Regions from separate parts of the Homo sapiens genome. Here all the other regions are reported to be linked to region 3. Evidence: microRNA targets listed by miRTarBase, many of them from high-throughput screens and not tested one by one. Region 3 holds a microRNA gene; each other region holds the end of a gene's coding sequence.
What was found. Region 3 holds the annotated microRNA hsa-miR-4751 (AGAGGACCCGUAGCUGCUAGAAGG, at 3,463-3,486, shown strand). A microRNA usually pairs through its seed, bases 2 to 8, with sites in the 3' UTR of a target mRNA and lowers its output. Matches are read on the target gene's strand: a 7mer-m8 pairs with bases 2 to 8, a 7mer-A1 pairs with bases 2 to 7 and ends in A, and an 8mer does both.

Region 1: miRTarBase lists ADNP2 as a target of hsa-miR-4751. Seed matches in the 3' UTR shown: 7mer-A1 at 6,335-6,341.
Region 2: the mRNA of MDFI is a reported target of hsa-miR-4751. Seed matches in the 3' UTR shown: 7mer-m8 at 6,380-6,386.

The regions. Positions count from the first base shown.
Region 1 is chr18:80,138,030-80,145,222 of GRCh38, reverse strand. ADNP2 (ADNP homeobox 2) reads right to left here. Exons shown (of 4, transcript NM_014913.4): 4 at 4,877-7,193. The coding sequence ends at 6,414. Among named protein-coding and RNA genes, the nearest start is that of PARD6G-AS1, 6.3 kb to the left of the region's middle.
Region 2 is chr6:41,652,884-41,660,073 of GRCh38, reverse strand. MDFI (MyoD family inhibitor) reads right to left here. Exons shown (of 5, transcript NM_005586.4): 5 at 5,830-6,755. The coding sequence ends at 6,499. Among named protein-coding and RNA genes, the nearest start is that of MDFI, 18 kb to the right of the region's middle. RefSeq lists an enhancer at 2,045-2,659.
Region 3 is chr19:49,929,611-49,936,803 of GRCh38, forward strand. MIR4751 (microRNA 4751) reads left to right here and starts at 3,454; the gene lies at 3,454-3,527. ATF5 (activating transcription factor 5) reads left to right here. Exons shown (of 3, transcript NM_001193646.2): 2 at 1,122-1,418; 3 at 2,812-4,325. The coding sequence starts at 1,241. The coding sequence ends at 3,482. RefSeq lists a silencer at 335-384.

The sequences.
Region 1 (7,193 bases), not on the chromosome of region 3:
CTAAAAATGTTTTTAAGGATTTCTAAGTAGGACTCAAATAGGTAAGAACTGATAGACATGGTGATGTCCCTAGACAGTCTAACTTTATTACTAAACAGATTTCATACTGAACTTTGTTTTTCATAAGATACTGAACTGAAACCATGTTTAGCATTTTAGTAGCAACACATCTATTTTTAGTATCTCAACTTTTACCCTAATTTATCAAACCAGTTAAACACGGAATATTATATCAAAGCAAAAAAACAAAAACAAAAAACCGATGCTACAAATAGCTAGGAAATGGCTAGAAAATGTACAGCACTGGGAGTTGATACAGATGTATTCTGCTCACTTCTCAATTAGGAGCTTATTAGACAAAGATGATCACTACTATCACCTATGAATAAAAAATGAAGTCAGAAGTGAAGTCGTTTGTGACTAGGAAATGGGGGTACAGAGAACCACTGTAAATACAATGTGCAGTTCTGGGATGAGGTTATCAATTTTCTAACAACATGTGAGACATAACCAGAAGAGTGGCAGCCTTAGAACCAACACAATTAGACACCCAAGCTGCTTCATCCCAAAGGGGTCGTGGGGCTGGAAATGGGAGCAGGGGACAGAGCAGGGCAACAGAGCAGGGCTGAACTTGGAATTCCCAAGTGCATTCCAAAAATCCTTGCCCTCCCCTTCAATTCTGTCCTCTCCTTTCGTGTAGTCTTACTGATATATTTAATCATTTGAAAGCACATATAAAACCTAGAAAAATGTTTTAATAGCCAAAAATGACCTTCCCTAAAAAATTCCTAATCTCTTTAAAATGACCTCTTATAAATTCCCAGTTATTTTCATAAGCTGTTTTCCACAATATAATAACAAACGGTGGATGAATCTCCCATCCTTTTTAGGACCAAAGATCACTTTCCTTGTTGTAATGAGACGTCTAATCTGGGCCTACACAGGGACTCTTTCAAGCATTTGTAGCTTATAAGAGTCCAAATTTGGGATCCTAATTATATATATGTGATGCTTGGAGTTTGAATTGTTTTTATTTTCAGCAAACTGTCTTGTGTGGTTTTTCCATATATTCAGTCTTCCCATTCTAAACAAGCTGCTTGGTAGGAGGCCAGGAAGTCCAACGAGTGAATGGATCTGTGACTCTCACAGGATGTTTTTATGAATTTTATGACTCTTTCGAGATACACATACATCTAACACAGAAAGATTACTGTCAGAAGAACCACTGAACCACTAAAGCCTTATGATTCATTGCTAATGTTCTATTTTTTCTAGTGCACTTTTAGGTGAATGACAAATTATTTAACATTAAACTTTCCATATCATGGGTTCAAAACTGTAGGAAACTACACAATTTCTGGAAAAAAAATACATTGATTCATTGCAATTAATTCTGTATTTGTATTTGAAAGTATGACCTCACAGCTTAGTTTGCATACAGCAAACATAGACGTCTATGTGGCTGCCAAAGTTTAGTTTACACTTTAAATATCTTAAATTCTTATCGGAAAGTTCCCTTCTGAAAAGGACTTTATGTATTTTCTTTTTTAAAAGAAATAATGTTTAGTTCAGAGATGAGCATGCAAAAAAAAAGAAATCATGTTGCTGGTGATGAGCAAAATGAAGATAAGTGGGTCTGGAGCACCCTCTTTAAAAGGCCATGAAGAACAACACTAGCTACTGTTTAGCAACCTTACATATATTTTTCCTCTCAAAATGCACAGCTGAATCATTTGCGTGAATGACTGGTATTAGTATTTGTTTTGAACTGGACACCATGATGGGCCTAAAGATCCCTTTCAGACACCACAGGCTCTGGCGTTTCATCTACTTTATAAGGTGGTCTCCTAGACAGCAGTCCCCATATAAGCATAGGTCTTTGAGGTTGGTAGTTAAGTACATTCTCATTTTAACTCTCTATTATGAAAAATCTGATAATATTCTAGACTTTAACATTTTTCCAACCTTCTAGGTCACATATTTACACTTTTTACCCAAGGGAGTTCATGGATCATAAATTAAGAAACTCCTGAGTTTAGGATCTGAAGAAAGTGAAGGGCTGGGTACTGTTCTAAGTAATGTATTTTTAGGCACATTCACAAAATATGAAAACAGCTTCCCTACATAACCTCTATATTGCTAAAATGACATTTAAACTTGCAGTTAATATTAAAGACTTAGTACTTAGGACAAATGATCAAAAATCAGAATTCTAAAGCTGTGGTGTAGCATCTGCACAACAGAAAGCCGAACTTGCAGAAGCCTGAGTTAGCAGGTGTGCTACCAAGTAAGCCCTCATCATCAGAAACATCTCACACTTACTTTCACCACCTATGAAAAGAAATTAGCTTGAAGAAACTGGACACTTAATAACCATAAGAGAAACTTCCAGCAGTACTTCATAGATGGCAATTTTGTTGCTTAGTTCATGAAAATTCAGCAGAGAGAATCTAAACAGCAAAACTGCATGCATTTTTTTATCGTTGTTTTCACTAACTCAGGACTATCATTCTTCGTCACTAATATATTGTCACTATCAAATTTAACATGCAAAATGTTTAGAATGGCACCTGGCACATAGGAACTGCTCTGGTAACCATCTCTATGTTGTTATTGTTGACAGCACCACCAGAAAAAGGATGTCTAGGATCAGGATGCCCTATTCACCCTGATACCCAAAGGGCAATGTACAGGTCTAACGATAATATTGTACCACTGAGAAGCAACATGTCTTCCTGGGCAAACTGAAATTTGAGTGGAGTAACGAGCTTGTCCCTCTGCCTAAGAGGTTCCTTTTTAGCACTGAAGTCTAGAGAAATCACTCAAGTTCTTAGCAAACTGGGACAGCTAGCCAACTCTGCCTCTGAGCTTGTTTCTTCCTCTAGAAAACACAGACAACTTAATACCTATAGGGTTATTGTGAGATTTAAATGGGATAATACATGTTAGAAGCCACTCAGCTATCACTCTAGCACTGTCCACCCTCACAGGCCTCCACCTCAGGCAAGTCATTTACCTCCATGCCTCAATTTCCTCAGGTGTGAGAGGGGAGACTACCACTCACTCGGTAGGACTCAATGTGAGAACGCATGCTGATGGCCATGCCACAGGCACAGGAGGCAGCAAGGATGACTATCATCAAGTATGCAGCCCCTTTCCTAGCAATATCAAGCAGTTAGTACATGTGTGCTATTTTCTAAAAAGACCTTGAAAATTAGGACAGTTCTGGGGCTAAGTTTTCTTAATTAGTGCTTAATTAACTGCTGCTTTGTTTAGTGAATCTAAGAAACTGCACACAACAGTCATCAGACTAAAATAGCTGCTAAAAAAGGGTAACAGAGGCCCAGCCTGGTGGCTCATGCCTGTAATCCCAGCACTTTGGGAGGCTGAGGGGTGGCAGCATGGCTTGAGGCCAAGAGTTCAAGCCCAGCCTGGGCAACACAGCAAAACTCCATCACTACAAAAACTGTTTAAAATAATCTGGGCATGATGGGTAGGCACCTCAGCTACTTAGAAGGCTGAGGCAGGAGGACAACTTGAGCCCAGGAGTTCGAGACTGCAGTGAGCTATGATCACACCACTGTATCCCAGCATGGGCACCAGTGCAAGATTCTGTTTACAATAAAAAATTTTAGGCCAGGCATGGTGGCTCATGCCTGTAATCCCAACACTTTGGGAGGCCTAGGCGGGCATATCACCTGAGGTCAGGAGTTAAAGACCAGCCTGGCCAACACGGTGAAACCCCATCTACAATAATTAGCCAGGCGTGGTGGCATGCACCTATAATCCCAGCTACTCGCGAGGCTAAGGTGGAAGAATCGCTTGAACCCAGGAGGCAGAAGTTGCAGTGAACCGAGATTGTGCCACTGCACTCCAGCCTGGGAAAAAGAGCGAGACTCCGTCTCAAAAAAAAAAAAGAAGAGCAACAAAATTCAGAGAAGCTAAAATAGTATGCTATATTTAAATGTGTTTTACCTGAATAGATTTCAAGTGTGTAGTATTTTTAAAGCTGCTGCTACATAGGTAGATTAAATATTTTAAAGTACACAATTTTTTGTATTTAAAAAACTCCTTCCTTCTAAATTTAATAAGTTTAAACTTTGTTCACAACTATTAATCTGTTACTCATTTTTTCATTTTCAAATAATAAATTTCTTACATTTGCAAGAACTCCCACATGTGCTTTTTGAAGCTCAGCTTCTATCAAATCTTAATCTCTAATCCTAAAAAACTAGTAACCAGCAACTAGCATAACATTAAAGACAGCATGAACAGTTCTACCACAGCTAAACTGCACCAAGAAATCAGCTCTTTTACCAGGGTTCTGACAAGATTCTGCCCCTCAGGGACCACCTGGTAATGACATTTTTGGTGGCCACAATGGGGAGAGAGTAGGGACATGCGTGCTACTAGTGTCTAACGACACTGCTCAACATCCTACAGTGACAGAATAGCCACCCACCACAGAGAATTACCTGACCCAAAATGTCAGCAGTGCTGAGGCTGGGAAACCCTAACGTACACAACAAAAGGAAGGTGAGGATTCAACCACGCCAGACGGCAGCTGCCTCCTCATCAGCACCTCCTCCACACTCACCCTGAACACAGCCACAGTGAAGGAAACTTCACAGCACTGACACCCCAGTTACATACCTTCTTTGGCACTTTGGGGGCTACCAGTATAGAATCATCAGGAATCTGTAGTTACACCTATTTTGTGACCCCAGTAATTAGACCTTTTGGGTTATGTTCTTATTTTCACACAAATGACAGGTAAGGTTTTTTTAGAAAATAAATGTGGTATCTATTCCCATATAGAGGTTATCCCTATGATTCACAATAATGTTTTAACTTTTAAAAGAATTAAACAGTTCTATTTGCAGCGGTGTAACAAATTTTAATTCAAAATAGACACTCTGAAAACAATAGGTAAAAAAAAAAAATGTTCAACAAGCTCTCTTTGAATTTACAACAGAGTACACCAACAATCATAAACCAGTTTCACAACTGCCTCAAATATGAACATTATAGCAATTACATGCAAGTATTATATTTTTTAAAATCCACATAGTAACATTATGTTTCTCAGAGGCTGTCACATCCTCCAAATATTTCTACCTAAAGATAGAGTGAAGGGGTTCCTCTGCTGTGTACCACCAGAAATATGACTTACCATCTAAACTGGCTGGTCTCCATGACTGGTTCTGGTGCTTTAAGTTTTAATATCGTGTGGGGAAAAAAACGAGGTTTAACATCCACAGGACAGTGACGACAATGGAGATTCTTTAACAATATGCCATCCCATCGACCCGGACACAGCTTCCAGCCTAAACCAGCTAGAGAAAAGCCCGTTTCTCCACTAAACATGACCTTCAGAAAATGTGGTCAAAGACTTACTGTACCAACCATGGAGACTGAGATCTCAGTCTGTAAACTTCGCCATGTCCCCTGAAACCCTATGCTGAAATTTAAGTTAGTTTTCACACTCAGGGGCAATAATCTTATTCCTGAGTATCATAGACCTTCCCTTTCACTAGTTTATGAGTAGTTAAGTTAGGAGAAGAGTTTTGGGGTGTATTCTTTCAATGTTTATTCTAAAGGCACTAAAAATTTATTGTTTTACCTCTGAACGGAGAAATGACTTAGCATATCAAAAGGGAAAATCTACACTGAAAAATATTTCTGCATCTACAGAATAAATTTATTTGTAAAATAACTCTTGATGTATGAGCTACATACCAGCATACCAGATGTCAAATTCAGTCTACTTTTAACAAATAAAAACATTTGATTTTCTATGAGTTATGGTTAAAAAAAAAAACAGCTATTAGGATAAACCTAAAAAAATACAGATCTAAATTATAATCTATAAGCAAAGATCTTACAAAGAAGTCAGCGTAAGTTAATGCAGTGCATCCTCAGGGAGCCTTATACATACATCACAGGGTTTGTACCCACGTCTCTGAACACTCACTGTACCATCTGCTGCTACAGGGAAAGCTGAAGGAGATCGATGCTTCCACTCGCAGTTAAATCAAGTATTCTGAAAAAGGCTGAAATGTCCTTAATGAAAAAGCAAATTATTTATAGATTTCAGTTTCTTATCATACGATACTGACACTAGTGGGAAAACAAGGCGTGCATGAAATATCAAAAGATTTCATTTACATGACAGAGAAAAAAACCTGAAAACAACTGTTCTGTTACAAATCAAACTGCAGGAAACAATAGATGTGAAATAACTACTGGCTTCCTGGTAACAGGGGTCTCTCCAGCACCTGAAGTAACTCTGCAGAGCAGCACAGTGACCACTGAGGTTGATTCACCAACACAGTGAGGACAACACTGTGAAATTTCAACTGAAAAAAATCTACCTACTACTTTAGAGTTACTTTTTTTTTTTTTTGCAAGTTTTATGGTTCATATTCAAAGTTCAATCTATGTTTCACATTTTTAAGTTCAGACATATCAAAGCCTAAAAGTACAGAAGGCTTGTGATTTTTTATTGCTTTCATGCAAATATACCTTCTTTTTCCAAAAAATGAAGCCACATCAATTTTCCACACCCAAAAGAGTGAGGACAACAGTTCTATTTCCTTTTTACTAGGATATGGTTTCTTATGGAAATAATCTTTAAGAAATTGCTTCTTTTCTTCATAAGAACGGCCTTCATATTTTTTAGGATCTAATGCTAAAATCTGAAGAGCCTCGTCCTTGACAATAGGTCCCTCTGTTCTGCTTTCATTCCTTTGTCTTTTAAAAGGCACAACACTCGTCACCTTTTCTGGACCCGGGGCTGCATCGGCATTTAGGATGGGAGGCTGCTCCTCCCCATGCCGCTGGTCTTCGGCCCCTAAGTGGCCGTCAGGCAGCTTTCTCTTAACAGAAAAACTGGAATCATGCATCACTTCACCACTGACTAAAAGCAGTTCACTGTTGTGAATAAAACCCGGCTGGGCCTGCAGGTCTGAGCTGCTGTCCTTGGGAGCACTTCTGCAGCGCACCAAATGGACGGCGATGGCAGCCAGGGTCATATTTCCCGTGTAGACCCCACAGCAGTGGATGCACTTGAAGGCGGGAGACTTCAGGACCGTGTGGACTGTGGGCATGATGTGGTGCCTCTCCTTCAAATGCAGCTCATAGGCCTCAGTTGTCACAAAGGGGCCAAAGCAAAAGGGGCAGGTGGACACTCG
Region 2 (7,190 bases), not on the chromosome of region 3:
CCTCACTCCCCTACTGGTGTTTCCTGGAACCCCCTCGTAAGCAAATTATTTGCACTTCAATTCTTGTCTAGAGTCAGCTTCTGGAGGAGTCCAACCTAAGAAGGAATATGATCCAGTGTGGGCAAAGATGTAAGTAGAAGCCTGTTGGGGCTTCTGGAAATCGTTCCCTCCCTGCTCTGGTAAAAGGTGAGGGAGGAGAAGTCCCCCTTTTCCATCTGCCTTTTTTTTTTTTTTTTTTTTTTTTTTTTGAGACAGAGTCTCGCTTGTTGCCCAGGCTGGAGTACAGTGGTGTGATCTCGGCTCACTGCAACCTCCGCCGGGTTCAAGGGAGTCTTGTACCTCAGCATCCCAAGTAGCTGGGATTACAGGCATGCACCACCATGCCCAGCTAATTTTTTGTATTTTTAGTAGAGACGGGGTTTCGCCATGTTGCCTAGGCTGGTCTTGAACTCCTGAGCTCAGGCAATCCACCTGCCTCAGCCTCCCAAAGTGCTAGGATTACAGGCATGAGCCACTGCACCCAGCCCACCTGCCCTTTTTGTTCTCGAGGGATGCCATGTGTAAAGACACAACGCTTGGGGCTGTAGTAGCCATTTTGTGACTAGGAGGGGAGCCATGGACAACATTCTGGGCATGATGGAGCAGGAGGTTGGAAGCCAGGATCCTTGATGGTGTCTTGGAGTTTCCTGATCAGCTCAGGGCTCACCCACTTCCGCATTTCTAGTTAAGGAGACAATAAATGTCCTTACAGTTGAGGCCATATTTATTTGGGTTCTTTGCTGCTTGCTGCCGAACACATCAATATTGATACAAGCTTTGTCCCAGAGGTGTTACCTTTGAAATCAGGTCCTCCCACTACTACCTTGAGCCCTTGGGGTAGAGCGGGAGGCAGAGGGGGGCACAGGCTTGAACTCCACAGGTGGCTGAGGGCCAGGGGTCCTGGACGGGAGAGGAACATGGGGGAAGCTAGTGTCTGGGGTCCCAAGAATAGGGGATGGGGAGGGCAAGAAAGTCAGTCCTCCATTAATCCGGGCCAAGAGGACCATTGTTATTGTTATTAGCACGAAGCATCTCGAGGCTCACACTCGTCCTGGCCTGGCTGGGCCCCCCTAATGGTCCCATAAATCCCAGCCATAAAGAGTAATGGGGGGAGACAAATGAGATAATTAGGAATAAATCTCAGCGCAGTCTCTATTCATCAGCGTCCCTAGAACTGGCCAATCTTCCGAGCCATTAGCCAGGTCCTAATTAATGCTGAGCTGCCCAGCTCTGCGGAGGCTCCATGCCTGGGAGGGATCCGGGCTAAGGGGCACCACTGCCCCCACAGCCCACAGCGGGCGACCTTGGGAGGGGCCGGGGGCTGTGTGCCTTCAGCCTGCTGCTTCACCTTTCCGTCTCCAAGGGCCTTAGTTTGTCCGCACCCTCCTGTCTGCCTCCTTGTCTCTGTCTCCTTTTGTTCATCTTACTCCATCTCCCCGACTACCTTCAATCCCGTGTTTCTCTCTTATCAGATGGCCGCAGTCTATGTTGTTAGCTATGGAAGATCTGAGTTAGAAGGAATTGTGGGACCACCTGTAAAAACTCTCCACCATCTGTCCTTTCTGCCGCCCTGTCAGTACCTGGGCAGGGACCTAATCTACACTGGCTCCCCCAGAACAGTCCTTGGAACAGGGATGACCCCAGCCCTGCCCCCTGCTGTGGCTGTCCATCTTTCCTGGGGCAGTTCTTGCTAGCAGAGTATTCTCTCATTCCTGGAGCTGGGAATGCTCTTTCTGTTATGTCTGCTTCTCGGTCTTACCCCTACCTGCTGGAGGCTGAACATAAGCCGCACTCTACTCAAGCTCCAGGTACTTGAAGGCCATTCTTGCCTTCTCTTCTCCAGCCAAATGTGCTGAGCTGCACTCGACAACTTGAGGTTTCCAGCTGGGTCTCCTCTACTCAGGGACTTCTCTGTACCACCCGTGGTAGTCTGACCCCACGGTAACTTCTGTTGTTTTAATCTGTTAGCTTTCCCCTCGTTTTTCTTATAACACCCCTACCTCTTTGGGAGGTTTCCCTTCCTTGATTCTATCAGGGTCTGGAGGGGTGGCCAAGTAGCCCACTCTCCCAGGCCACAGAGGCAGCACACGATGAGGCCTGGCCAGCCACAGCCCTCCGTCCCCTGGCACCGTGATTGGCTCAGGGATGAGCCTGCTGATGTGCGGGGCCAATCAGAGTGCCTCCCTGGCCTTTGCTATGTGGCCCCAAGGCAGTAGAACTGAGACGGTGCCAGGTGGACCGTGTGTCTACCCCTTCCCACTCCACATGTATCTGTCTGCAGTAGGAGGAAATGTGCCCCGCACCCAGAAAGAAGCAGACCCGGAGATGGCAGGGATTGTGAACTGGACGGTGGCTACGGCCTGGGGGAAAGCGGTGAAACCAGGTGAGAGGCGAGGAAGGGCTGGGAGATGGCTTTTCTCCAGAGGAGGCTGAGGTGATGAAAGGGCTGTGACTGCGGCTGCCATCCCATACCGTGTGTCCTCACCAGCCTAGGAAAGTCAGAGCACAGAGGAGCATCTGCACAGAGATGACAAGGGACCGGCTCTGTGAGCTCTGTCCCCATGACTCGCTACTCCCCCACTGTGGCCTGAGCCTCCTGTCCCTGCTTCTCCCTCACCTCTCTTTGCCCAGGGCCAGCCCCAAGGACGACTAAGCTGTTTTCCAGCTCGGTCAACAAGTGGAGTCCCGCTGCCCCCTGCTCAGCCCTGGGATTGTGTGCAGCAGTTGGCCTGAAAACCCCAGAGACCAGCCCCAGCCCCCACAACCGGACCATCACCCTGGGGAGCAGGTGAAGCTGTTGAGGGTGATGGCACGGGGCAGGGATGGACCTGCTCAGCCCAGTGTCAGAACTGCTTAGCGGTGTTCTGTCCTGGCAGCTCTGGAGCCATGGAGGCCATGGGGCCTGAAGCTCAGTTTGCCCCGCTCTGAGTATGAGAACAGGCTATGCCAGTTAAAGTTCCAAATACAGGGAGAAGCTGATGGAGACTATGGAGGCAGAGGGGTCCGGCTGATTGCCCTCCCCTCACAAACCACCCCCTGGTTCAGCTACTTGCTCTGCCGTGGGGCCACCCCTCTTAGGTTTGGCGCACAAGATCACTGAGTGGTCATGGACAGTACTAGCCACAGATGGCTAAACTTGGCCTCACCACCTTCTCTCCCACAAGCAGGGGGTGCTTGCCTTGGTTTAGACAACCCAGGGGGCGGGGTGGCCTCTTAAGATGTCTCCCAGGCAAAAGTGGCCTGATCTGCTGCTCCAAAGATGAAAGAAGACTGGAGAGAGGCAGGTGTTCCCTGGACACTGTGGCTGCAGTCTACCCACTCTTCCGTCGTACACACAGGCTTGGGGAGGAAAGGGCCTCTTTCCCGGGGCCCACAGCACAGCCAGGCCTAAAACTGTCTCCTGGCTCAGCCCAGCCGTTGGAAAGCAGAGCCTGGGAGCCTGTGGTAGACCATGAGGAGAGGGAAGGGCCCAGAGCCAGGGCTTTTGCCATTTGCTGCCCGGCAGGGATCAGGGCCACCTGGGCAAAGACAGGGAGGTGAGGAAGGCAGGGCAGGTGTGGGACGAAGCTTGAATGGATAGGCATGAGTCTCCACAGCCCAGCCTCAGGCTGGCCAGGGGTGGCGGCGGCTGCAGGCTGTGAAATGTGTGAGTGTGTGTCCGTGTGTGGGTAGATGTGGTGTGAGTGTGTGTGTGGTGCGGGTGATGGAATGCATGAGCCTGCGGAATGTATGTGAGTACGTGACTGTATGGAAAGTCTGTGTGAGTGTATGTGTGTGTGCATACAGGTGTGAAGTGTGTGTGTGTGTGAGTGTGTGAGTGTGTGTGTGTGTGTGTGTGTGTGTGTGTGCTGGGGGGCTGGCTAAATCCTTCCCCTGTCCCGCCCCAACCCAGCTTAGCCTCTAGGGTTTCAGCCACTGTCCTAAAGAAAACAGCCTGGAGCCTGCAGCAGGAAATCGCTGTTTGGATTGCAGAGGCGCCTCTTCCTGCCACAGCCCTGCGGAGCAGGGAGGGCCAGGAGCAGGCCTTCCTGCCCACCTGGACCAGATATCGAGCTGGTCAGGAGCCCCTTCACCCCCTGATCTGGCCTCCCTAACGCCCTTCAGACCCCAGCCTTGAGGACTGAATGGGAAACCCTCCCACCGTTGTCTCTCGAGGGCAGTGGGAGAAGTGGATGCCCCCGAGGCTGAGTGAGCCGAGGCTGGAACACCCTCACAGAGGAAAGCCAGGCAGTCCTGTCAATGGTAGGTCCAGCAATCCCACATTCACGAACATTCTGCCGATACAGCTCATTCATGCAAAAGGGTGTGCCTCGCTCAGCCTGGTTTGTACCAAAGCGCTTGAGAGCGGATTAAGCAGAGCTGGGGGTCCCTGGACTGTGGCGCATCCATCCAGGGCAACTCAGCCAGCTCTCCATGTGCTGGGAAGGAAGCTCCCCAAGACATGGCCAGGTGGGAAAAACAGGGTACAGTGCAGTGTGTACAGGATCCTCACATCTTCGTAAAAAAAGAAAACACATACATGTAAATGCTTGTGTGTGCACAGATCAGACTTTCAAACCTTCCGTACCTTGGGCAGGCAATAACTAAGAAAATATATAAAAATACGCACAAATAGATACATGAGTGCTGGGGGTGCCTCGGGGACCCTCTACCGGCTTGATTGTGAGACCCCAGGCAGGTCCCTTCCTCTCTGTGTCCTGAATTTCTTGTGTGCTCTCAGAGGTCAGAAAACCTTGAAGCTGGTGAAGTGAGGCGTGTGTGCGTGGAGATGGAGTGGGGAGGGGGTGGGGGGCTAGTTTGCGTTGCCTGTTAGAACCTCCTCCTCCTGCTGCAATGAAACCCACTCCCAAGGCCATAGGCTGCTCCCTCCTGTGACATTCCTTAAGAGAGTTTGGATTTCATCTGGCCCTTTTCCCCAGTCCCCACTCCTTCCTTCCAGAATCCCTCGGAACCACTCCAAGCCTTCATTCCTGGAAGCAGTGCCCACTAATACCCCTGCAGCCCCCGTCTCAAGGCCTTCATCAGCTGAGTGTTCTCCAAGTTGCCCCAACTGTCCCAGAGCCTCTCATGCCCCCTGGACCTCTCCTGGCCTCCTCCAGGTCCAGGATATGTGTGGGGGGTGCTGGTCCAGCTGCCCCCAGTGCGGCCCTGCGATCCTCACAGCCGCCATTGCTTCTCAGGCCCTTCCCTCTGCACTCCAAGGCCGCCCCACAGATGGCCGTAGGGGCCCATGCAGTCCTGACAAGGCTTCCTTCTTTCTCAGACGCCTGGCAATAGGGGGATGCCTGAGGCTGGGTGTGTGACCCCCACTGGGCCTCCAGTGAAGCCCAGGGGCAAGTCTGGGCTGCCCCAGGCCTGGAGTAGCCCCCTCCCAGGCACCCCTCTGGCACTGTCATGGGCATCACCTATGCCTTGGAGCGACTTCATGGGATAGAGCTGGAGAAGCTGAAGTCAGCAGGAGATTAATTAATCAAAACCCGAACACATCTGCTGTTAATTAATTCCATGCCAAGGTTAACTCTTCCCTCTGGGCTTCCCCTCCCCTTGGTGGGAAGAAGGAAATAATGGTGGGAGACAGCACCCCCTTAACCTTCTTCCCTTAGTGGGAAACATGAAGAAGGGAGGGGAACGTGAAGGGCAGGGCAGTTTCTGGGGTAAGAAAGCAGAAGAGGCAGGGCCCCCAGAGGGCAGGGCAGCCTCACCCATGTGGGTGCTTTTTAGCGGTGGTAGGGGGCGTTTGCTTTTGAGAGTCAGGGTCCATGGCAATTAGTCATGAGTCCTGAGGAAATCTGAGATGGACAAATATCTTTATTTACAGCAACAGATAGAACAGACCCTCCCTCCCTTCCCTTCCTTTCCCCTTCCAGTCTTTTCCATACTGTTCCCCCTCCCGCCCCACCCCAGGCTCTCGCCTAGCCCTGCCCTCTGGGGTCACTGCGTGGGTTAGGCCCCCAAAAAAGCCTAGGAAAGGAGACTGGAGAGGGCTGGCTGAGGGTGGGTGGGGCGTCTCTTCACATTTTTCTGTCCTCTAAGCCTGGGGTGGAGGAGAGAGGCAGGCACCAGGAGCAGGGAGAGGTAGAGAGCTACGGCCCCACCGGCCCACCCTCCCCAAGTAACTTTCACAGTGTTCCCCAGCCCTGGCTGCCCCCTGCGGTCCCCACCCCAGCCCTGCCCCTAGGTTGTCCTGTCAGGTCCTCAGCAATGTATGAACCTGGTAACCCAGTAAAGAGTTCAGGCTTCTCTGCCATGGGCCCACCACCCACGGCTGAGGAGGTGGCCCCTCTGAGTGCCCCCCACTATTTTCAAGGCTGGGGTTCTGAGAGGACATGGGTGGGTAGGAGAGGACCAGGGAGAGGGGGCTTCTCAAGCCTTGTGTGACAGTCCTGGGCCTGGCCCCACTCAGAGGGACCCTGCTGGAATCTGCAGGGGCGCCAGGCTGGCTTAGCCCCCGACAGAGGCTCAGGAGGAGAAGCAGAGCCCACAGCACTCCATGCAGATCTCCAGGCAGTCCGCGGACTCGCAGCAGGCATCCAGGATGCCGCAGTCCAGGTCGCAGGGCAGGTCGCAGTCGGCACACTCGCCAGAGCCACAGCAGCAGCAGCAGAGGCACGAGTCCTCCGAGCTGCAGGAGCCACAGGTGGCGCAGTCCAGGACGATGTTGCACAGCGTCAGGAACTCGCAGAACAGGCAGGACAGGATGCAGTGGACACAGCAGTCTGCGGGGTGGCGGTGGAGAGGGGGACGGGTGAGAGAGGGGAGGGATGAGCGTGTGTGAAATAGCCGGGGGTGTGGGGGCCTGCGGCAGCGGCAGCAGCAGGGACGCTGAGTGTTCACTGTGTGCCTGAAGCTCACGAATCCGTCCCCACAGCTCCATTTTCTAGGTGATGACCCCGAGGCACAGACAGTTAAGCACATCGGAGCGGGCAGTCTGGATCATCCTTGCTCTTAGCCACCCTCTGTTTATTTGTTTAACCAACATATGGAGTGATACATGTTCTTGGCACTGTTCTGAGTGCTGTGCATGAATTACATTCATTTAGGCCTCCAATGAATCTATGAGGCAGGGGCCTTTACTAGCCCCACTCTACAGATGAAGAGACTGAGGTTAAGAGAAGTCGGCCGGGCCCAGTGGCTCATGCCTGTAATCCCAG
Region 3 (7,193 bases):
GCCCGCGTGCAGCTGGGCCTGAGCACTCCAGGGGAGGGTGTGTTTTTTTTTTTTCTAAACGATTCTTCGTGCTTGGTTGTTCCTGCGCAGTAGCCCACCAGTGCCCCGTAGTGAAAGAGCTGCGGACCCTGAATGGCCGCACATGCGCATTGATCCCCAAGAGGGCGGAGGTGTAAAGGCAATTGGACCGCTCGGGCGACGTAGCATGCGCCTTGGCCCTCGGCGCAGAGCCGCGTGTGGACGGGTGGCGTTCGGGTAGCCGTTCTCCGCGTGCCCCCTCTACCCTCCTCCACCCTCCCTGCCCCACGTTGCTCTGGCTCACAGCCCAGCTTCCTTCCTTTTAAACCAGGCACCTGCTGAGGCGGGGACTGGCTTAGATTGACAGGGCAGAAGGCGGGACCCAGAGGCAACCCTCTAAGTGGGTGGGGATAGAACCACTGTCGTCACGATGGGTGGGATTTCGGAAGCACATTGTGAGAAGGGGCGGGGCTAAACCAACCGTTAGTTGAGGGGTGGGGTTTCGATGTGACAAAGAGGCGGGGCCTCTGGGGAATCGGGGGAGGGGCGGAGCTAAATAAACAATGAGGGGCGGGGCTTGGAGGGGCAGCGGCAGAGCGAGGAGTGGGATTTGAGTGGATAACATTGCTGAAGGGCTGCGGCCTGGGGCAGTTCCCCTGGGAACTGGTTTGGGATGGAAGCTAGGAAGGCAGTGGGGCCAAAAGGAAATATTTTAGAGGAAGGGGCGTGGCTGGAAGAAAATGTCCCTGGGATTGAGTTTTTCCTTGAGGCGAAATATTCTGAGGTGGATGGGAGGGGCCTAAGGTAATTCCCCTGGGAGACCTTTAGGTTTTTTTTTTCTGTATTGGGGGAAGGGGTGGGGCATCGGTCCTACTTTAGGACCTAAAGAAATTCCCTTGGGAGTGGGTGGGGCTCAGAGATTTGGGTAAAGAAAGGGCAAATTTAGAATTCGGAGAGGCTGAGGCTTAGTGTTCTAAACGGTGGTTGGAAGGGGGAGGGAGGAGCCTCATGGACGTGCCTGGGGGTGTGGCTTGGCTTCCCCTTGATTTTGGCCGGTGGATGACGCTGTCCTGACCACACCCACTCTTGTCTCACGCGTGTAGGTCTTCCACTTTCGCCTTGGTGCCTGTCTTCGCCCACCTGAGCATCCTCCAGAGCCTCGTGCCAGCTGCTGGTGCAGCCTCTCCTGTTGCCATCAGTGCCCAGCACCTGTGCTACAGCCATGTCACTCCTGGCGACCCTGGGGCTGGAGCTGGACAGGGCCCTGCTCCCAGCTAGTGGGCTGGGATGGCTCGTAGACTATGGGAAACTCCCCCCGGCCCCTGCCCCCCTGGCTCCCTATGAGGTCCTTGGGGGAGCCCTGGAGGGCGGGCTTCCAGTGGGGGGAGAGCCCCTGGCAGGTAAGGGCAGGTGGAAGGTGGAGCTGGGGAGTGGAGGGCAGGGGAAGATGGGGGAGGAAGAACTCATCCATGTATTCAATAAATATTGAGTGCCTACAATGTGCCAGGCACTGTTTTAGGTGCTGAGGATACGGCTGGGAACAAGAAGAACATGGTCTGTGCCTTCCAGCAGCTCACACTGTGGGGAGTAGACCAGAGATAAATTAAATGAGAGTGTATTGGAATAAGTCAAAAACACCTAGCAGCTGAGCTACAAAATGACAAAGGGGACCTAATATAGAATGGGTAGCCAGAAAACCTTCTCCAAGTAGGTAACATGTTGACTGAGGCATAAATGATGGGAAGGAAGCCAGGCATGATGGCCTGTAATCCCAGCACTTTGGGAGGCCAAGCGGGGAGAATTGCTTTAGTCCAGGAGTTCAGGACGTGGGCAACATAGCGAGACCTCATATCTATAGGAAAAAAAAAATTAGCCAGGCATGGTGGCTCACGCTTGTAGTCACAGCTACTTGGGAGGCTGAGGTGGGAGGATCGCTTGAGCCTGGGAGGTCTAGGCTGCAGTGAGCCAAGATGATGCCACTGCACTGCAGCCTGGGCAACAGAGTGAAACCCTATCCCTTAAAATAAAAAAAAAGTAGGGAAGGAATGAGGAAAACACCCAAGGGAAGAGCATTTTAGTTGGAGGGAACTGTATATGCAGAAGCCCTCAGGAGGCAGGAATCATTTCATTCATTACTGTATCCCAAATGCTTGGCACATAGTGGGTTTTCAATAATTAATGAGTAAAGATGAAACAAGGCATATGTGCGTGTGTATCTGTGTGTGTAATGTGATCTAGTTTGCCTTTTAAAAAGAGAGAATAGAGACACCACAGATACAGAGTACTCGGTAAAGGAGATGTTGGAATGGTTGAAGAAATGCTTGGTTGACTGTTGCTTGAGTCATTGGTTGGTTGGCTGGTTCTTTTTTTCTTTTTTAATTTTTTTTTTCTCCTGGACCCTCTTATGGGTTAAGACTGATTCTTTCATTGGCTAATTTGTTGGGTTTTGGTTAACTGGTTCATTGGTTGATTAATGGGTTGATTGGTTGGTTGACTGATTTATTTGGTTGGTTGACCGATTCCCTGATTGATTGGTCGACTAGTTCATTGGTTGGTTGGTTGGTTGGTTGGTTGACTGGGTGGTTAGATGGTTGATTGTTGGTTGGTTCGTTGACTGGTTTATTGGTTTCTTCACTGGTTTGTTGGTTTATTGACTGGTTTGATGATTCAGTGGTTAGTTGTTTTACTGAATGAATGGGACAGATGCACCTGAATGAGACGTGAGTCAGCACCCAACTACGCAGAAGACCAGCAACTCAGGGAATTTTGTGTCCCTCCCCACTTTAATCCCAGGTGATGGCTTCTCTGACTGGATGACTGAGCGAGTTGATTTCACAGCTCTCCTCCCTCTGGAGCCTCCCTTACCCCCCGGCACCCTCCCCCAACCTTCCCCAACCCCACCTGACCTGGAAGCTATGGCCTCCCTCCTCAAGAAGGAGCTGGAACAGATGGAAGACTTCTTCCTAGATGCCCCGCCCCTCCCACCACCCTCCCCGCCGCCACTACCACCACCACCACTACCACCAGCCCCCTCCCTCCCCCTGTCCCTCCCCTCCTTTGACCTCCCCCAGCCCCCTGTCTTGGATACTCTGGACTTGCTGGCCATCTACTGCCGCAACGAGGCCGGGCAGGAGGAAGTGGGGATGCCGCCTCTGCCCCCGCCACAGCAGCCCCCTCCTCCTTCTCCACCTCAACCTTCTCGCCTGGCCCCCTACCCACATCCTGCCACCACCCGAGGGGACCGCAAGCAAAAGAAGAGAGACCAGAACAAGTCGGCGGCTCTGAGGTACCGCCAGCGGAAGCGGGCAGAGGGTGAGGCCCTGGAGGGCGAGTGCCAGGGGCTGGAGGCACGGAATCGCGAGCTGAAGGAACGGGCAGAGTCCGTGGAGCGCGAGATCCAGTACGTCAAGGACCTGCTCATCGAGGTTTACAAGGCCCGGAGCCAGAGGACCCGTAGCTGCTAGAAGGGCAGGGGTGTGGCTTCTGGGGGCTGGTCTTCAGCTCTGGCGCCTTCATCCCCCTGCCTCTACCTTCATTCCAAACCCCTCTCGGCCGGGTGCAGTGGCTTATGCTTGTAATCCCAGCACTTTGGGAGGCCAAGGCAGGAGGATCGTTTGAGGCCAGGAGGTCAATACCAGCCTGGGCAACATAGTAAGACCCTGTCTCTATTAAAAAAAAAAAATCAACCCTTCTTCCCCACCAAACCACCCAACTCCTCTCTACTCTTATCCTTTTATCCTCTGTCTCTGCTTATCACCTCTCTTGCGTATTTCTGGATCTCCTTCCCTCCTTTCTCGTCCAAATCATGAAATGTTTGGCCTTAGTCAATGTCTATGCCCGTCACATAACAGCCGAGGCACCGAGGCCCACAGGGAAGCAGCTGGGAGCTTGGAAACCTGGTCTCTTGAATTTCAAACCTGGTTTCTTACAGGTGGTTGTCTGGGGTGGGTGGAGTGGCGACAGGATAGAGCTGAAGGACTATGCAAATGAGGAAGTAAGTCAGGGCGGGCTTTGAGAAGGGGACCCATATCCTACAGGCAAAAAGCAGGCTAGGTGACCTTGGGACACTACGCTAAGGGAGGGAGGCTAAAGGCGGCCAGGTTTGCAGTGCGGGAAGATGAGCAGGCCAGTGGGAGGAGGGGCAGGGCAGGGCTGTAGTTGGTGACTGGGTGTTCATTTTAGCTCTAAGAAAAAAAATCAGTGTTTCGTGAAGGTGTTGGAGAGGGGCTGTGTCTGGGTGAGGGATGGCGGGGTACTGATTTTTTTGGGAGGTTATGAGCAAAAATAAAACGAAACATTTCCTCTGGCTTGTGCATCTTGTCTTTGAGAGAAGCAGCTGGGGAGAGGCGGCCTTGTAATCTCAGCACTTTGAGAGGCTGAGGCGGGCAGATCACCTGAGGTCAGGAGTTCAGGACCAGCCTGACCAACAAGGTGAAACCCCATCTCTACTGAAAATACAAAATTAGCTGGGTGTGGTGGCGTGTGCCTGTAATCCCGGCAACTTGGGAGGCTGAGGCAGGAGACTCGCTTGAGCCAAGGAGACGGAGGTTGCAGTGAGCCAAGATTGTTCTATTGCACTCCAGTCTGGGAAACAAGATTGAAACGCTATCTCAAAAAAAAAAAAAAAAAAAAAGGGGGGGGGAGGTGGGGAGGGCCGGGCGTGGTGACTCACGCCTGTAATCCCAGCACTTTGGGAGGCTGAGGTGGGCAGATCACGAGGTCAGGAGATTGAGACCATCCTGGCTAACACGGTGAAACCCTGTCTTTACTAAAAATATGAAAAATTAGCCGGGTGTGGTGGCGGGCGCCTGTGGTCCCAGCTACTCGGGAGGCTGAGGCAGGAGAATCACTTCAACCTAGGAGGCAGAGCTTGCAGTGAGCCTAGATTGCGCCACTGCACTCCAGCCTGGGCGACAGAGCAATACTCCATCTCAAAAAAAAAAGAAAAAGACAGTAATAAAGATAACAGGGTGGGTGCAGTGGCTCACGCCTGCAATCCCAGCACTTTGGGAGGCTTTGCCAGGTGAATTGCTTGAGCCCAGAAGGTGGAAATCAGCCTGGATAACATAATGAGACCTCATCTCTACAAAAAATAATTTTTAAGAAAATGGCTGGGTGCTGTGGCTTACGCTTGTAATCCCAGCACTTTGGGAGGCCAAGGTGGGTGGATCACCTGAGGTCAGGAGTTCGAGACCAGCCTGACTAACATGGTGAAACCCTGTTTCTACTAAAAATACAAAATTAGCCAGGCATGGTGGTGGGCGCCTGTAATCCCAGCTACTTGGGAGGCTCAGGCAGGAGAATCCCCTAAACCTGGGAGGCGGAGGTTGCAGTGAGCTGAGATCGCACCATTGCATTCCAGCCTCAGCAACAAGAGTGGAACTCCATCTCAAAAAAAAAAAAAGAAAAAAAATTAGTGGGTGAGGTGGTGTGCACCTGTAGTCCTACATACTTGGGAGGCTGAGGCAGGAGGATCGCTTGAGGCCAGAAGTTGGGGACCAGCCTTGGCAACATAGCAAGATGCTGTCTCTACAAAAAAAAAATTAGGTGGGGCCGGGCGCCTTGGCTCAACGTCTGTAATCCCAGCACTTTGGGAGGCCGAGGCGGGCGAATCATTTGAGGTCAGGAGTTCAAGACCAGCCTGGCCAGCATGGTGAAACCTCATCTACTAAAAATACAAAAAAAATTAGCCAGGCATGGTGGCGCATGCCTGTAGTCCCAGCTACCTGGGAGGCTGAGGCAGGAGAATGGCTTGAACCCAGGAGGCAGAGGTTGCAGTGAGCTGAGATCACACCATTACACTCCAGCCTGGGCAACAGAGCAAGGCTCTGTCTCAAAAAAAAAAAAAAAAGAAAAGAAAAAGAAAAGAAAGAAAATTAGCTGGGCGTGGTGGCATGAACCTGTAGTCTGTAGTTCCAGGTACTCAGGAGGCTGAGGCGGGGGGATTGCTTGAACCCAAAGGTTGAGGCTGCAGTGAGCCATGTTTGTGCCATTGCACTCCAGCCTGGGTGACAAAGCAAGAACCTGTTAAAAAAAAAAAAAAAAAGACTGGGCACAGTGGCTCATGCCTGTAATCCCAGCACTTTGGGAGGCTGAGGTGGGTGGATCACGAGGTCAAGCAATGGAGACCATCCTGGCCAACATGGTGAAACCCCGTCTCTATGAAAAATACAAAAATTAGCTGGGCATGGTGGTGCACACTTGTGGTCCCAGCTACTCAGGAGGCTGAGGCAGGAGAATTGCTTGAACTCAGGAGGCAGAGGTTGCATTGAGCCGAGATCGTGCCACTGCACTCCAGCCTGGGCAACAGAGCAAGACTGTCTCAAAAAATAATAATAAATAAATACATAAATAAAAGAAAAAAGAAAAAAAAAGTTCTCCACCCAGCAGCAAAGCATCTTTCTTTGCAACAGTGCGGAATTTTACCGGAGCCTTGCGTGTGTGGACAACAGCGACAGTGAAGAAATCCCCCCACTTTTCCGGCCCAGGTGTAGTGGCTGACCCCTGTAATCCCTACACTTTGGGAGGCCAAAGTGGGAGGATCGTTTGAGCCCAGGAGCTTGAGAACAACCTGGGCAACATAGCACGACCCTGTCTCTACAAAAAGTTAAAAAAAACTAACAACAAAAAAGAAATCCTCCCGCTTTTTTGCATTCCAGGAGATGGCTTACTGAGAAGAACCACCCTTCCGTATATGACTTAGATAAGACTTGAGGATGAACCCCTTGTCTAAGACAAGGGCAGACATAGACCCTCCAAATTCCCATTTCGTTGTCTCGTACATGATTAACTGAACTGTTTTGTCCCCAGTGATCAATTGAAACAAAATGCTTGTTTAACCTAACTTACTCTCCTCACTGCCAGGCCTCTGAATTTCAGTCCATCCACAGCCTCAGCCAGAATACAGCCCCTCCTTAAGCACCTCTCCTGAGAAGAATAAAACATTCCCTGGTCGATTGTCCTGTACAATAGCCCTTGCATCTTATTTTCCCACAGCTGGTTCTTTCTAACCTTGTTTACTCCTCCCCATAAAAGAAAAAGTCTTTGGCTGTGCACATGGCCTGCGCCTGTGGTGCCAGCACTTTGGGAGGCTGAGGAGGATCCCTTGAGTTCTGGAATTCCAGAGCAGCCTGGGCAACATAGCAAGACCCCATCTCTACAAAAAAATTACAAAT